2 separate regions of the Homo sapiens genome follow, and region 1 is linked to region 2. The links come from fine-mapping of genetic effects on gene expression. Tissue or cell type: whole blood. Region 2 holds a variant in brackets; the other region holds the start of a gene. All regions are shown on one strand. Distances are between the middles of the regions. Region 1 holds the start of THBS1 (thrombospondin 1). Region 2 overlaps LOC105370777 (a long non-coding RNA gene).

What was found.
Region 1: THBS1 starts here. The variant in region 2 is fine-mapped to the expression of THBS1 in whole blood (INTERVAL, PIP 0.98).

What each region holds. Positions count from the first base shown.
Region 1 is chr15:39,577,654-39,586,064 of GRCh38, forward strand. It overlaps THBS1 (thrombospondin 1), which reads left to right and starts at 3,426. Exons shown (of 22, transcript NM_003246.4): 1 at 3,426-3,575; 2 at 4,176-4,271; 3 at 4,540-5,099; 4 at 5,964-6,039; 5 at 6,335-6,534; 6 at 6,647-6,769; 7 at 7,817-7,910. The coding sequence starts at 4,205. LOC124903470 reads left to right here and starts at 2,154. Exons shown (of 1, transcript XM_047433405.1): 1 at 2,154-3,341. The coding sequence starts at 2,665. The coding sequence ends at 3,099. RefSeq lists an enhancer at 2,517-3,254 and silencers at 2,677-2,906, 2,917-2,966.
Region 2 is chr15:39,308,418-39,316,828 of GRCh38, forward strand. All of the region lies in intron 1 of LOC105370777 (a long non-coding RNA gene), which reads right to left. Among named protein-coding and RNA genes, the nearest start is that of LINC02915, 62 kb to the left of the region's middle. The variant C/T (reference allele first, on the strand shown) is at 5,110.

The DNA.
Region 1 (8,411 bases), 270 kb after region 2:
GGATCACCTGAGGTGATGAGTTTGAGACCAGCCTGGCCAACATGGCGAAACCCCAACTCTACTAAAAAATACAAAAATTAGTTGGATGTAGTGGCACACGCCTGGAATCCCAGCTACTCAGGAGGCTGAGGCAGGAAAATCGCTTGAATCTGGGAGGCAAAAGTTGCAGTGAGCTGAGATTGTACCACTGCACTCCAGCCTGGGAGACAGAGCAAGACTCCATCCCACCCCCCACCAAAAAAAAATTCTGGTCTTTACATGTGAAAAAATAAAAGCTAATTTTTAAAAACTAAATAATAAAGAGTGTTAGGTGATAAGTTTTATGATAGAGATAATGTGTGCTTTAAAACACACAGCATAAAACAGATGGAAAACACCTCATGGAGAAGGGAGAGCTTGAATTGGTGTTTGATTGAAGGACAAGAAAAATCTGTTGGTAACTTCCTCCTGGCTCTGACCTCTGATGCAGTTAAAGTAAAGCAACTTAGAATTATGATCTAGGGAACATATTCAGAGAGAAATGAATTTATGATGTCTTCAATTTGAAGATGCTATGATTTTAGACTATTCTAGAATACAATGATTTTTCATTGCTTCACACTTGTAAGAAATGTTCCACTACTGAAAATTTGCAACACTTAAAAAATTCCTACACAAAATCACAGCCCACCTTGCTGTTCTATGCTAAATAAACAAAATATTTTTTCTCAATTATGTTGCTCTCCTTAATTACACGCAATTTTAAAACTAGCTGTAACTGACAGCCCTTTCCTCACACTTACTGCCAATGTATTTAGGTCAATCCCACCTCCAATTAGAGAAACTTAGAAAAAGGAAATCCTACGGTGAAATGCCATATGCCTTACAATTTTCAGTAACTAATCCTCAAGGATGACAACTTGGCAAAAAAGAGAACTGGACCAGCTCCCTGAAAGGTCCATCACTTCGGCCCATGTTAATTGATTGCCTTAAAATCACAGTGCTTCCAGGTTGTAGAGACACACTCAAAATGGACTATTGCCCTCACATTAAAGGGGATAGGTTTTCTTTTCCCTTTTCCCATCCCTGCTTCTCTCAAAGCTGCACAGAGGTATATGAGGTTTGGGGAATATTTGCAGCACATGTTGGCTGGCAAGAATGTGGGTGAATTCCTGTTAAGGGGCGCAGACACTCCCTCTTCTATGACCTTTCCTTTCCACCCAGAACAACTGAAGTATCATGATAAGAGGAAGGGCTTTGTGTTTGAGATAAGCAGCTCCTATACCTGTCAGCTTTCTCTAATAAGAAAGCTCTTTCCTGCCACCGTATAGGTCACCTTCTTATTGGTAAAGCATGATGAAGTTTGGAAACTGTTGTCCTTGTTTTGTTGAAAGAAGCCAAGTTCCAAGAAATCTGCAGAGGCATTCCTACAATCCCTCAGCCATGGCAGCATGAATCCTGAAGGGGCAGTGAGTGCTGGTTTCTACTCTGTCTGCACAGCTAAGCCTAGGGGAGATAATCTTTTCATACAAGATGCATTCTGCTTTTGTGGGCCTCTTGCAGCCCTCAAGCCCCCATCTGATTTGTACACAATGATCCAGTGGGCCAGAGGAGCCCAGAGCCATGAGCGGCCCATCCCTCCAAGAACTATTTCTGACTGTCCAGTATCATGGAGCAAGTGGAAAGAAGAAAAAAAAAACCCAATTACTTTTCGAAGAGCAAGATGAATGCTGTAGAAGGAGAAGGAAGGGGAGGGAGATGGATGGGTGCCGATTCCAGAATCTTCAGATCTGCTTGGATGAATCATTACCTATGATTTGCGGGACAAGAATCTGATTTTATTCATCAACCAGTAGAAACTTTTCTTTCTGCCTCCCAACATCTGAAATCCAACAAACATGTGCCTTAGGAACATACCGGTCATCTTTTAGAGGCATTTTATATACATATTGAGTAACTAGAAAACACTCTTTCCGTAATACACACACACACACACACACACACACACCATCTTGTCATACAACACTCCCACGCAAGAAAAGCGAAACTGCTGTTTGATGAATGTAAACACTTGGCTGTTTGCAGCAGTCGGGAGTCCTGCCAGGTTTAAGTGCTAAGATGGGAGGTGAACCCCAGGGGTTTCCCCCTGCCCGTGCTGAGATCCTTATTTGGTCAAGCTTCTACCTATGCCCTGGCCTCGGAGCGAGCCCGATAGCGCTGGATCACAGCAGAGGGAGCGAGGCGGCTGACGTCCCATCCCGAAGAGATGAATGGAATTCCAGGAAGCTAGAGTCATGCTGGCTTGGGACAGTGGCTTGGAGACCAGACTTCAATGACAGAAGCACTAGGCAGCGGCACTCATGGCAATGTGTGCACCCACAGAAATGTAACCCACACCTCGGGTTCAGGAGCCGAAAAATGAAAAGAACGTTTAGGGAGGAAAAAGGGAAATACAATAATAGGCAGAGAGTAATTTATTACTCTATGGGTCTGCTCTGTAAATAGCTGAAGACTCTGGAGCCAGATGGTTCTGCAAATTCTCCAAACAGGAGTCACGTTAAGAAGCACGAGTGGGCACAAAAACTGTTTTTCAAGACACAATTTCAATTTGGCTTGTGGAAACTGGATACGAGTAAGTTTCCTTAAAATTCGAGTAGAAAGCAGCTGTCCTCCCCGGGCCCCTTGATGAGAATACGCACACCGCCCCCAAGCGGCCGGCCGAGGGAGCGCCGCGGCAGCGGGAGAGGCGTCTCTGTGGGCCCCCTGGCAGCCGCGGCAGGAAAGGGCCCGAAGGCAGCGAAGGCGAACGCGGCGCACCAACCTGCCGGCCCCGCCGACGCCGCGCTCACCTCCCTCCGGGGCGGGCGTGGGGCCAGCTCAGGACAGGCGCTCGGGGGACGCGTGTCCTCACCCCACGGGGACGGTGGAGGAGAGTCAGCGAGGGCCCGAGGGGCAGGTACTTTAACGAATGGCTCTCTTGGTGTCCCCTGCGCCCCGTCGGCCCATTTTTCTTTTTACAAAACGGGCCCAGTCTCTAGTATCCACCTCTCGCCATCAACCAGGCATTCCGGGAGATCAGCTCGCCCGAAAGCCCCTGCGCCACCCCGCGGGCCCTCCTAGGTGGTCTCCCCAGCCCCGTCCCTTTTCGGGATGCTTGCTGATCACCCCGAGCCCGCGTGGCGCAAGAGTACGAGCGCCGAGCCCGTGCGCGCCAAGGCTGCGTGGGCGGGCACCGACTTTTCTGAGAAGTTCTAGTGCTCCCAAGCCCCGACCCCCGCCCCCTTCACTTTCTAGCTGGAAAGTTGCGCGCCAGGCAGCGGGGGGCGGAGAGAGGAGCCCAGACTGGCCCCCACCTCCCGCTTCCTGCCCGGCCGCCGCCCATTGGCCGGAGGAATCCCCAGGAATGCGAGCGCCCCTTTAAAAGCGCGCGGCTCCTCCGCCTTGCCAGCCGCTGCGCCCGAGCTGGCCTGCGAGTTCAGGGCTCCTGTCGCTCTCCAGGAGCAACCTCTACTCCGGACGCACAGGCATTCCCCGCGCCCCTCCAGCCCTCGCCGCCCTCGCCACCGCTCCCGGCCGCCGCGCTCCGGTACACACAGGTAAGTCGCCCCCGGCGGCCGCCGAGGACCAAAGCTGCCCGGGACATCCACCTGGAGCGCTGAGGCTTCAGTCCCTCTGGTGGACCCCGGAACCTACACTCTCCCCGCTCGCCTACCCCAGCCCGCTCCTCTCAGCCGCTGGAGGACTCTTCAGGGCAAGGCTCCAGAGCCATCCTCTCCAGCCTTGAGGTTCACAAACCAACTCATCAGGACACCCCAAGATTTCCTTACTCTCTGAAGTCCTCCTTAAGCCTTTGTATCAGCACTCCAGGGAAGAGTCTGTACTTCCCCTGCCCTCCCTGCAACCCCAAACTACAGTTCCTGATCTTGCTCACCTTCGACTTCCCAAAAGCCCCCAAATTGTTGGTCTTGCGCCCCCCACACTTTAAAACCAGCATCTCTTTCCTCCACCTCTCTCTCTCTCTCTCTCTCTCTCTCTCATGCTCTCTGGAAAGTAATCCTGTTGTCCTTCATTTCAGCAAACGCGGGGTCAAAGAGGGATGGTCCCGGCCCTGTCCCCATGCCCAGCCCCGTTTCTGCGCACCGTCCCTCCCTGCCTAGCTGATCTCTGACCCTCGGCTCTTGTGCTTCCTGCTACAGGATCCCTGCTGGGCACCAACAGCTCCACCATGGGGCTGGCCTGGGGACTAGGCGTCCTGTTCCTGATGCATGTGTGTGGCACCAACCGCATTCCAGGTGAGTTTGTGTGGCACCTTTAGGGGAAGGAGGGACAAGGAAGAGGTGCTGGCTATCCCAGGTGTGCCCCCTCACGTGCTGTCCTCTCCCTCTTGAGCCTGACTGGACATCAGGACGCAGCTTCACTCTGATCCTGGTATTTATTCACCTCTTTCAGTGGTTGCCAGGAGTTTTCACCCCAACCCTTTGTCTCCACCCCTAAGGACTCAGCCCCCTACTGCTGGTCCCAGCCTAGAAAGCTCACTTTGTGTTCTCTCCTGTCTAACAGAGTCTGGCGGAGACAACAGCGTGTTTGACATCTTTGAACTCACCGGGGCCGCCCGCAAGGGGTCTGGGCGCCGACTGGTGAAGGGCCCCGACCCTTCCAGCCCAGCTTTCCGCATCGAGGATGCCAACCTGATCCCCCCTGTGCCTGATGACAAGTTCCAAGACCTGGTGGATGCTGTGCGGGCAGAAAAGGGTTTCCTCCTTCTGGCATCCCTGAGGCAGATGAAGAAGACCCGGGGCACGCTGCTGGCCCTGGAGCGGAAAGACCACTCTGGCCAGGTCTTCAGCGTGGTGTCCAATGGCAAGGCGGGCACCCTGGACCTCAGCCTGACCGTCCAAGGAAAGCAGCACGTGGTGTCTGTGGAAGAAGCTCTCCTGGCAACCGGCCAGTGGAAGAGCATCACCCTGTTTGTGCAGGAAGACAGGGCCCAGCTGTACATCGACTGTGAAAAGATGGAGAATGCTGAGTTGGACGTCCCCATCCAAAGCGTCTTCACCAGAGACCTGGCCAGCATCGCCAGACTCCGCATCGCAAAGGGGGGCGTCAATGACAATTTCCAGGTGAGGCTTCTTCTCTGAGCCCTGCTCCGTGGGATCATCTGCTAGACAGGTGACCTGCCAGGAGGGCTACAGGAAATCCTGTCTGTAAACTAACGCAGCAGTTCTCAGATTTTAGGCAGCATGAGCATCACCTGGAGGGCTTGTGAAAGCTCACCCTGCTGCACCCCAGCCCCAGAGTCTGGGATTCTGTAAAACTGCAACTCTAACAAGTACCAGGTGATGCTGATGCCGGTGGTCTGGGAAGCACACTTTGAAAACTACTCAAGGAAACAAGAAATGGTTTTCCTTTAGCAGTCAGCCTGTTCAAGCCTTAGATACTCCTTAGGCTCTTAAGAAAAGAGCTTATTTCAAATGCATTCCCCCAATTTTAATCTTGTTTGAAATGGATACTTTCTATGGGCAGAATCAGTACCACTTTGCTATTGGATTCCTCATGGGGATGCAGCTGGTCTCACATAAAAGGTTAAAATAGCAGTTAGTTGTTGCTGTTACAGCTTCATCTGTGCCTTAACTTCTAGATCTTTGCAACGGTGGCTTTGAACTCCCACATTTAACTCTTTGACACTGGAAAGTGTCATTATATCCTCTAGGCTTAGGATCAGATTCCATTTCCTGTGTACCCAAGTAGGCTGATAACTGAATTCTTTGTAAAATACTCAAGACTTGGCAGAAGTCACAATTAAGATTTTGAAGTTGTTTGGCGATTAATGTTGCTGTGTTATTTTGACATAGTGATCTTAAGACAGCTCTTTGAAGCTTTTAGAACATCTATTGTATGCTTTTCCTAGCATACAGACAGTCTCCCCCAACCCCATCCCCACCCCGCTCTGCATTCTACAAGTAATGTGTGTCCTCTGCCCACAGGGGGTGCTGCAGAATGTGAGGTTTGTCTTTGGAACCACACCAGAAGACATCCTCAGGAACAAAGGCTGCTCCAGCTGTGAGTACCCCTCTATTTTTAGGGCACATAGGGAATCAGGGGGAATTCCACCAAAAACAAACTGAGGAATTTAGCAATAGTGGTTATACATAAATTACCCCCAGTGAGATCATCAAGAGGCATACAGAAGTGACTCCAAGGGGTATTATACACACACACGTATACACACGTGCGCATACACGCAACCCCTCTACCTGCATCCTTCACACCAAATGAAACGTCTTCTACCACTAAGAACTCAAGAGGCTGGTTGGTAAGAGTATCTATTTGAAGTTTTCATTTTGTTTCTTGCCAGCTACCAGTGTCCTCCTCACCCTTGACAACAACGTGGTGAATGGTTCCAGCCCTGCCATCCGCACTAACTACATTGGCCACAAGACAAAGGACTTGCAAGCCATCTGCGGCATCTCCTGTGATGAGCTGTCCAGCATGGTCCTGGAACTCAGGGGCCTGCGCACCATTGTGACCACGCTGCAGGACAGCATCCGCAAAGTGGTCAGTGGCCTCTGCACCCAGCCCGTTAGCATGAACCCTGGAAGGTTTATCGCAGATGGTCCCAAATGACTGAAAATGCGGGGGGACACTAATGATATTCTCTCCCATTTAGACTGAAGAGAACAAAGAGTTGGCCAATGAGCTGAGGCGGCCTCCCCTATGCTATCACAACGGAGTTCAGTACAGAAATAACGAGGAATGGACTGTTGATAGCTGCACTGAGTGTCACTGTCAGGTAAGGGACCTTCACCAGCCAGAATAAGAATCGACGGCTTTTGTTTGAACCTACATCTTTGGGGAAATACCCTAATCGCCACAGAGATTCTTTTTATGTTCCATGGCCTGATAACAAAGTGTTTTTTTTTTCTTTAAGATGCAATTATGGCATCTATAAGTTCTTCTTTAAACTCTCAGATGGTTTATCAAAGTATTAATTATACCCCAGGCTAAGTATCTAAGAGAATGAATCTACTAAGACATCTGAATAATTTACCTACCTTAGTTCAAAGACTAAGTGTTGAATGTCAGGTAAATAAAACCTGGTTGGAACATTCATTTTTTTTTCCCAACCCTGATTTATATTCAGCTTTGGCATAGGTTCTTTTAGTACAGTAGCAATTGTTTTTCAAATCACTTAGTCTGACACTGTTAGGATGTTACTGTCTGCTTTGCTCAGATGGCACTGCCAGGTGTGTGATTCACTCTAGCATCCCCGCATGCCAGTGGCCAGTGAGTTTGGAGGTTCACCTGGCTTATCTATTAATAGCAAAGTATTTGAATTTGCTTAAATACAAATCACAGATGACTGGCTGTGGGAACCAACTTCATTAAATTCCCTTTCTTTTCCAATATAAAGACAGATCACAGATCTATAGATGAGGAAAAAGTGCTTATAGATCTTCCTTCCTCCCCCCAAACACATAATATAAAAATGTAAAAGTCCTGGCTGAATTTTCTGAGTTTGATTTCAGACATAGATTTGACCCATGATGTTTGTTGGTTCCTCTGCTATAAATTCTTTGTACTGTAACTTCCACCCTTGACTAAGTAGCAATTAAAAAGAACTTTCCAAGGAATGGAGTGACACGTAAACTAGCACTAGAACTGTCTCTACGATAGTGGTGGCTGCAAATATGACAGAGACAGATCTATGAAAATCATTCCACTAGAGCATTGACAGCCCTGACCATGTTTTGGCTTGTAAAGGAAATGTTACAGGATGTAGACTTCTGTATGCAACATGCTCAGCAGCCTGTTCCCCTCTCACTCTCTTGCCCTGCAGAACTCAGTTACCATCTGCAAAAAGGTGTCCTGCCCCATCATGCCCTGCTCCAATGCCACAGTTCCTGATGGAGAATGCTGTCCTCGCTGTTGGCGTAAGTTTCTCAAATGGCATAGCTATTCTTCAGTGACTAGGTCAGTTCTACATACATCCTAGACAGCCGAGCACAACACTGGAACCCCACCCCCATCTCCATCATGCTTCCATTCAGTTTCTTGCTGCAGCAGCTGGTTAACTGACAGCTTATCTGCTGTACAGAGCCAAAACTCCATTATGAGTACATCGTAATTACCCATCTGGATTGCAGTAATGGCAGTGAAGATCTTGGTATAGCTCATTAATTCTGATTTTTTGCTTTGAGGAAAAGAGATGAAGACGTGGCAGCAACAGCTCTAAGTTGACTGCTTTTAGAATTTGACCTTAGTGGCACAGAGTTAAGAAAAATCTGCTCACCAGAGATATTGACAGGCTTACTGTGTAAGCATTGGCCTGATCGGGCCTGGAAGTTTTGCCCCTTTCATCTGTAGGGATAAGAGGGCCTAAGAGAATAGCAGCAATCTGAGCTCTAGAGCACCAAAAGAAATAAGGCACGATA
Region 2 (8,411 bases):
AGCATACTGGACTATAATTTTCTCTTCTTGCAGTGTCCTTGTCTAGTTTTGTTATCAGGGTAATGCTTGCCTTGTAAAAAGAGTTTGGAAGTATTCCTTCCTCTTTGGTTTTTTGGAAAATATGAGTTCTTCTTTAAATATTTGGTAGAATTCATCAGTGAAGTCAGCAGGTCCTTGGACATTCTCATTTGAATGTTCCATTTTTATGATGTCATTCATTGAGCTACAAAAGAACCACTTGATACTAGTGTCCAAATTCCAGTACTTTAATGAGGTACACAGATTCTCACCTAAACTCTTTACATGTACACTACTCTTTAAAGATACTTAAAATAATCTTAAACTAAGTGAGCAGTGGATAGAATTGAGGTAATCCTGACATAGTCTACATACAAGTGCTTTCTTACAGCAAAATAGAAACAACAGAATCTGATTCTATACCTAGGTCTTGTTTCTTCAATAATCTTTGAGTTAATCTGTCCCAGAATTAATGCCTGTGCCATTGCCCAGAATGCTGAATGACCCTGGCCGATACATGTTGACTTGCTCAGAAGTCTCTTCAGGGGAAGCTAGCTAAACATGATCTGGGAGAGGACTACGCTTGAGGACGTATCAGGTCTCTACTTTTCATGTTTTTCTCTTCCCATTCTACTTTCCACAAAATATCCAGAGATTCTTAGAAGGGCCAAATGTTGAAGGTGGTCATGCACAGGCCTAGCTTGATTCCCAGCCAGGGTAGGAGTTTTCTAAAAATACTATCCCCATCAGATTCCTGATACTTATAAGTTTAAAAGTTGAACAAAATCTTATATACACAATGTATAATGAGTCTTAAAATGTTATTTCCTAGGAAAAGGAAATCTATGATTTAAAGTTAAACCAAAGTATAAATATGTGGTATCAGAGATAAGGAAAATCATGGTCAGAAAACCTGAGTGCAGACCTCAATTCTGCGACTTTTCCCCATCTTTGTGAATCTGGACAGTTTATATATCTTGAATCTTAGCTTCTTGGTTTGCAAAAAAAAAAAAAAAAAAAAGCATAATAATTAATGCCATGGAGATTTTATAATTAAAGGGAGAATAAAACTAATGCACCAAACTAATATAATCAATATTGCCAACAACGAATGATGTTTAGTCTTCATTCTTACTTTATCCATTAGCAGCATTTGATGTCCTTGACCCCTCTCTGATTCTCAAAACGCTTTTTTCCCTTGGCCTCCTGGATCCTACACTCTCCTAGGGTTTTATCTTCCTCCTTTGACTGGTTGCTTCTCAGTTTTCTTTATTGTTTCCTCATCTTTCTGGCATCTTAACATCTGAGTGTTCTAGGGCTCAGGAGTAGGAAATCCTCAGCAGAAGCAGACTGCAAAGTCAAACCTTTCAAGCATTCAGAACCAGCAAAGTCTGCCTGTGGGCAGACAGAAGAGCTGTCCACTATGTAGTGAGAATAAAACTCTACCCAAATGTAGATGTCTGCTAAACTCCAACGGTGAAAGGAATGGGATGTGACCCCATGATCAGGATTACCCAGAATAATCCTCACTTCAGTCTGGCCGACATCCACAAGTATCTTATATTTGGCCCACCTCGAACTGAGGAGGACTCAGACACATGTTACTGCCCCAGCCTGAGGCCATCAAAGAAAACATCTCAAAGATTCTCTTTTACCAAAAAGATTCATGTCAGATTTTCAGACTAAGGCCCTTGGTACTAATGAATTTTGAGTTGGAGTGGTAGCCTTGGCAAAATAATGATGACAATTCAATTTAGGCCTCCTAATATGTGGATGTTCCTGGAGGTGGAGGAAGAAAACTTGGACACAACTGGAATGTGTGTTAGACAGCAGAAATAGAGGCCATGACCAGCTTAGGCCCTAGGTTCCTGAGATACAATAATTCTTCTGAAATGGTGTCCTTTTACTCTGTCTTCCTAGAAGAACTCAGCTCTACAAGTTTTAAAACATTGCTGGGAAGAATGATCTCCATTTTAAATTCTGGATACACGGAGCTCAAGATGGCAACAAATCCAACACTAAAGAAACCGATACTCCTTAGGCACTTACTTTATGCCTAACATTGCTATGTGTGATTCACATGTTATCTCCATTAATCCCCATAATTACAGGGACACACTAGTATGACCCCCACTTTATAGGTGAAGAAATTGAGGCTCAGAAAATGGTTAAGCCACTTACTCAAGGTTGCCCAGCAAGTGATGGAGTCAAGATGAAAATAGGCAACCCGATTCCATAGCCCACATGCTCCATGGCCCTGGTGCTCCATGCTCTGTGCACAGACTGGCTGAGGCAGAGCTGCAACAGGATCCCTGACAGCTAAAGTTGCCATTACAATGATGATTCGTATCCTTCATTTAAATATAGATGAACACCACAAAATGACAAATGTATCTTTATGTTAAAGGTGTGTCCATTATGATGCAATAATTGGCCCTTTTAGCATTTTCATTGCCACGAATCACACATTATGTAACTATTACTAAGCTAATCCCACTAAAGCCTATTAATGTCAGAAAGACTTGGGTGTTTCACTACTAAACTGTCTCTGAGGATGTTTTAACACTTGTTCTTAGGCTGCATTTAATATCTGCAATTATGGGGAAAGGATGCCATGAAAACTATCCTTAAATCCTTTTTTATTTATTTTGTTTTGAGATGGAGTCTCGCCCTGTTGCCCAGGCCGGAGTGCAATGTCACAATCTCGGCTCACTACAACCACCTCCACCTCCCAGGTTCAAATGATTCTCCTGCCTCAACCTCCCAAGTAGCTGGGATTACAGGCGCCCGCCACCACACCCAGCTAATTTTTGTATTTTGAGTAGAGACGGGGTTTTACCATGTTGGCCAGGCTGGGCTCGATCTCCTGACCTCATGACCCACCCACCTCGGCCTCCCAAAGTGCTGGGATTACAGGTGTGAACCATAGTGCCGGCCAAATCCATTTTTAACACAACCAAACAAAACATCAACTTGATTGAGAGCTCCAGGACATTGATTGAGAGCTGTTGCCATATGTTTTTAGGCTCCAGTATATCAAGGCTAAAGTGCTCACCATTGCTAGAGGACAAAAACACACAGCAGCTGCTCAGCAATGCCTAAGCCTGTGGCCCAAGTCGAAAAGAATTAGACCAAGTATTACAGTAATCAGGCCTCAAGCAAGCAAAAGCCTGGCTCAATACTAAGAACCCCCTACTAATGGGGAGAGCACACCTCCATACTCCGGTGCCTGGGGAAACATTTCCCAGGAGTGTGGTGGTGTTCTGCCTGCTGGGAGATAGATACCATTAACCTCTCTTCTTACTATGTTTGAACTCCACTTGCACTCTTATCTCTGAATTTTGTCTTGTTTCCACTAAGTATTGCTTGCCCCTTCTTCTTCATACTCAAAAATATGGATGTAATATACCTGCCTCTAAGGCCCCTTTGAAAGTTCATCTTCACCCCCAAGTTAAACAGAAAACCCTCATGCATGTGTGCAGTCTGATTTCATCTTATGTGGCGCTCCTCCTACTGACAAAATATGTTCTCACTCTGAGAAGTTTCCCTGTGCCGCTTTAGTAATAAACAAATCCACCTGTGTTTGCATCCTAGGCGTTCTCAGTGTACCACACTTGAGCTCTGCCTCCCCGGTTAGGCATCTGCTCTGGAAGCACGAGGAATATTGCTTTCAGTCCTCTTATATTCCTGATACCCTTGACTTTGCAAGGCCTAGCAATACGCGGCACTTACTATAAATTAAATAAATAAAAATCCATTTAAGTCAATCAAACCAACAGCTCTCTGTTTCTCCTGTGAAATGGAGAGGCAGATGAGTAGCCCAGCATTCTGCATGGTTCCCCTGATGCACTCTCCCTGCCCACTGAAGCAGCCCTGCAGTTCCACCCAGTCATTCCCTGCTTCTCTGCACCATAGTGACGGGTCCACCTAGAAGGAAACTCCCTTTAAAAGTTGCTCCATTAAACTGATAAGAACAGATACTACACTTGATTTTAGCCAAGAGGATATGGAGAAATAGGAATGCTTTTACACTGTTGGTGGGAGTGTAAATTAGTTTAACCATTGTGGAAGACAGTGTGGCGATTCTTCAAGGATCTAGAACCAGAAATACTATTTGACTCAGCAATCCCATTACTGGATATATACCCAAAGGATTACAAATCATTCTACTATAAAGACACATGCACATGTATGTTTACTGCGGCACTATTCACAATAGCAAAGACTTGGAACCAACCCAAATGCCCATCGATGATAGACTGGATAAAGAAAATATGGCACATATATATCATGGAATACTAAGCAGCCATAAAAAAAGGATGAGTTCATGTCCTTTGCAGGGACATGGATGAAGCTGGAACCATCATCCTCAGCAAACTAACAGAACAGAAAACCAGAAACTGCATGTTCTCACTCATAAGTAGGAGTTGAACAATGAGAACATATGGACACAGGGAGGGGAACATCACACACCAGGGTGAGGGGCTAGCGGAGGGACAGCATTAGGAGAAATACCTAATGTAGATGATGGGTTGATGGGTGCAGCAAACCTCCATGGCTCGTGTATACCTATGTAACAAACCTGCATGTTCTGCACATGCACCCCAGAACTTAAAGTATAAAATAAAATAATTATAAATTTTTTTAAAAAGTTGCTTCATTCTGGGGACAAGAGACCACCAAGCTGTTGCATGTTAGAACAGACCTACTGGGAGGCAGTAGAGGGCACTGTGGACTCATGCCCATGACACCCCCAATAAGCACACCTATGGCAAAGAGGAAGTGCCTAAGTCCACAGGTCTCGAGTTTGTAGTGCGCATACCTCCTGCCCAAGTCTATTGCTGCTGTTGCTTAGCCCTTTCAATATTCTTTTCTTACATTTTGTTTTTCTTAACTGTATCAAAGCTTGTGAAAAATTCATATCAGTTATTTCAATTTTTCTGAAAGATTCAGTAAATCAGATATTGTTTTAAAACAATCATCACCAAAGCCACGTGGCTTAGTGAGGATTGTTTTAAAACAGTCAATGAGGAAGTTAGGAAATAATTCTTCATCTCCAGACTTAATTGACTAAGTCCCAAAGATTATTAC[C/T]CTATATTATCTCTTAAATCACACCCCCTCTTACTTAGGACAGGAACATACCCCTGAACAACAGTGCTCAGCTGAGGGGGTGAACAAGGCTAAAACCCAGCCAATCACTGCTGGCAAGGCCTTGAGCCCTGGCTCCAGGCTGCACCTGCCTTAGGAAGGGGCGTCTCTCTACGACACTGAATGGCCTCCTGTGGATCACCACAGACCTGCTTTAACCACCTTAACTGCAACCACCTTGTTCTTGGCCCTTATTTATACGTTGACCACTATGACCATCTCCTAACACTCCTAGAGGTAACTTAAACTGCATACACACACATATATTCATAACTGAACAAGCTTTATGCATATTTACAAATTAAATGTGCCATCACTGAAATTCAAATTAAAAGCATTAATCAAATGTGACCAACATACTGTTTGACTAAAATTGAACCTCTTCTGCTCCAGGGAGGATAAGGAGCTGACAGCTATGTTACAAGATCTATCTAGTTTTGTACTATATAGACCATGTGTTATGCAATGACTCAATATCCAATCAATGTTTTCTCTGATAAAGTCCTTCCAAACTGTCTGTTGGCATCATTTGGCCATTATGAAGTTTATGTTTGTTTTAGTCTCATTATGTGGAAACAGTTAAAGCAGTCCTACTGGAACCCAAATAATCTTATGTTCAAATGTCTACTTGGACTTAAATCTCATTTTAGTACACAGGCAATAAAATAATGATCCCGATAATCCAGATCCAGATAATCCAGAAGGTGCTTATTGTAGTTAAACATAAACAAAAGTAAGCTAATTGCTAAATTTAGAGCCCAAAAGGGCCAGACCACCATCATACCTGAATTTATAGATCAAAAGAAACCAAGTTGAAATCCAACTCTTTCCTTACAGGTTTTAATATTAGATGGCTACAGGAGGACTCAGGCTTAGAAAACACCACTTCTCATGCTTATGGTATTAAGCCCTCCTTTCAGTAAATAAGGAAGGGGATATATCCTCCATGAGAAACTTAAATAAATATAGCTGTTCTTCCACTGACCTATATTTCCTATCAGAGAACACCAAATACTATGTAAATAGAAAATAACTCTACTGTTGAGATAATCTATAAGAGGGTCAGCAAACCATAGCTTTAGGGCCAAATCCAGTTCTTGCCTTGTTTTTGTACTTCCTGAAAGCTAAGAATTTTTACATTATTAAAGGATTATTAAAAATGAATTTATAATGGAGACAGTATGATAGGTCACAAAGTCTAAAATTTTCTACCCTGTCTATGTAAAGTTTTCCAACCACTGAACTAGATAATACCCTAATAAAGAATATTACCAATGAAAACTACATAGAGCTATTCATCATTTCTATGTAAATTCACTGTCAAAAAATGATCATCAGAAATAAGATGGACATATTTTACCATCCATGAACTTTTATTTCTTGGACTTCTATGTAATAAGGGTTCATCAGTGAATGTCCATGTAGAACATTTTTTGTCCAGTCAAGTCTAATGTGTTTAAACTGGCCAGTATTTGATAAGACTAACATCTTTATCACAGCCTCCATCCTGAACTGCTTGCCTTCATCCAACTCAAGCCCCATTACCTAACGTTTTCCTGAATGTTAGTCCTCCTGAGAGCTCAATTTGCCCTCTTTGGGCAGCATTGCCTTGATCACAAATCTGCTGCTCAAGACCCCTTTTCTGGCTCTGATCTCAATTTCCATTTGCAATCACTCATTTGATTATGCTCTTCAGAACAAACCAGGATTGTCTCACTAAGTCTAGCCCGTTCTTACAAGACAGTTCTTACTGTACTTACTGTACAATGCAGCTGATGAATGCCCATACTGGGATGAAGCCAGGCATACTGTCACCCAGTGACTTGGAAATTTAATACTCAACTGATGATGCCAGGATAGGAAGCCAGCCAAACTGGCTCAGTCAAAACAAAAATCTTCTTTCCTTTCTTTTGATTTTTGCTCCAAAATGGCTAATTCATTTGATGGGGAACTTGAGTTTTCTTTATAGAGTGAAATTGAGAAAGATAATAATTAATTTTGAAAATATATACAGAAACATTGGAGCTCTAAGGCAGTCTGAGGCAATGCCTTTTAACTAGGAGCCAGAGATCCCTATGACAATGCTTCTCAGTGTTTGGTCCAGCTCACTTAAACCAGAATTCTCTTGAGTGCTTATTAAAAATTTGGAATCCTGGGACTAACTCTCTAATATCTGATGAATCAGAATTTTTGAGAATGGAGTCCCACTATTATTGTGGTTGATAAAACTTCTGGACCAAGACTTAAGAGGCCAACATATGGTCTTTAGGGGATTTTCTTATCCACTGAAATTATTTGCAAAAATACATGATGGTTGATGGTTCGAAGTGCATTTTTCTAAAATGACCCTATTCATCTTCATCAAATTATCAAAGCAATCTATAGTTTGAAATAAGAATCACTTGTTTTAAAGGAAAATAAAATTGAATCAAAATACAAAGCTTAAATTTCTCTGAGCACCATTTCCTGCATGACTGGTAAGTCTTGCCTTCTCTGGGAAGCCATTCTTCCTTCTTGCCCATGTGCCATACAGCTCTTCATACATACCAGCAGCTTAGACCTCCAGGAATTTCCATTTCACCCAGGGAAGCAGCTTTGGTAACTTCTCTTTGAGATCAGAGCTCCCGTATGGTGAATCTGGGGTCTCAATTTACTGTTCTCTACTCTAAAGTAATTTGTATGAAGTGAATGATTGTCCATGTCTGGGGCCACAGGGCCTTTCTCATGGGCCACAGCTGGCCCCATCAGCTTCTAACACCTATGAGGGAAGCACAGCTGTGGGGAAAGTATTGGACTGTTCAGATTTTCCTCCTCAGTTGGTGAGGCCACTCACTTTATTTCTTTGCTCCAGTTCCTCTTTAGTGAAATAATTTTTTTAAAAAATCCAACTCTACTTACCAACCAAAGTTTATAAGAATAACAAACATTAGAGTGAGAAAGGTAGAGATTGTCCAGTTGCTACCTAACCCCAAGCTATCAAAGCTCAGTGAATTTAAGGGACCCTTGCAAAGTTTTCAGCTTGATAAAAACTGTAAGAACTGTAACATCATTTCATTCGATCCTCAAGATGCTCCAGTGAGAGATGCACTAGCTGATTTTATCAGATCATTTAGCTCTTTCCACTTCATTAAACTAGCTCAAAAAGGTATAATAAATATGCAATATCTTCGACAATAAAAGGCAAGTATAAATATAATGCACTGTTTTACTATTATCTCACCTGTGACTCTGAATTTGACTTCTGT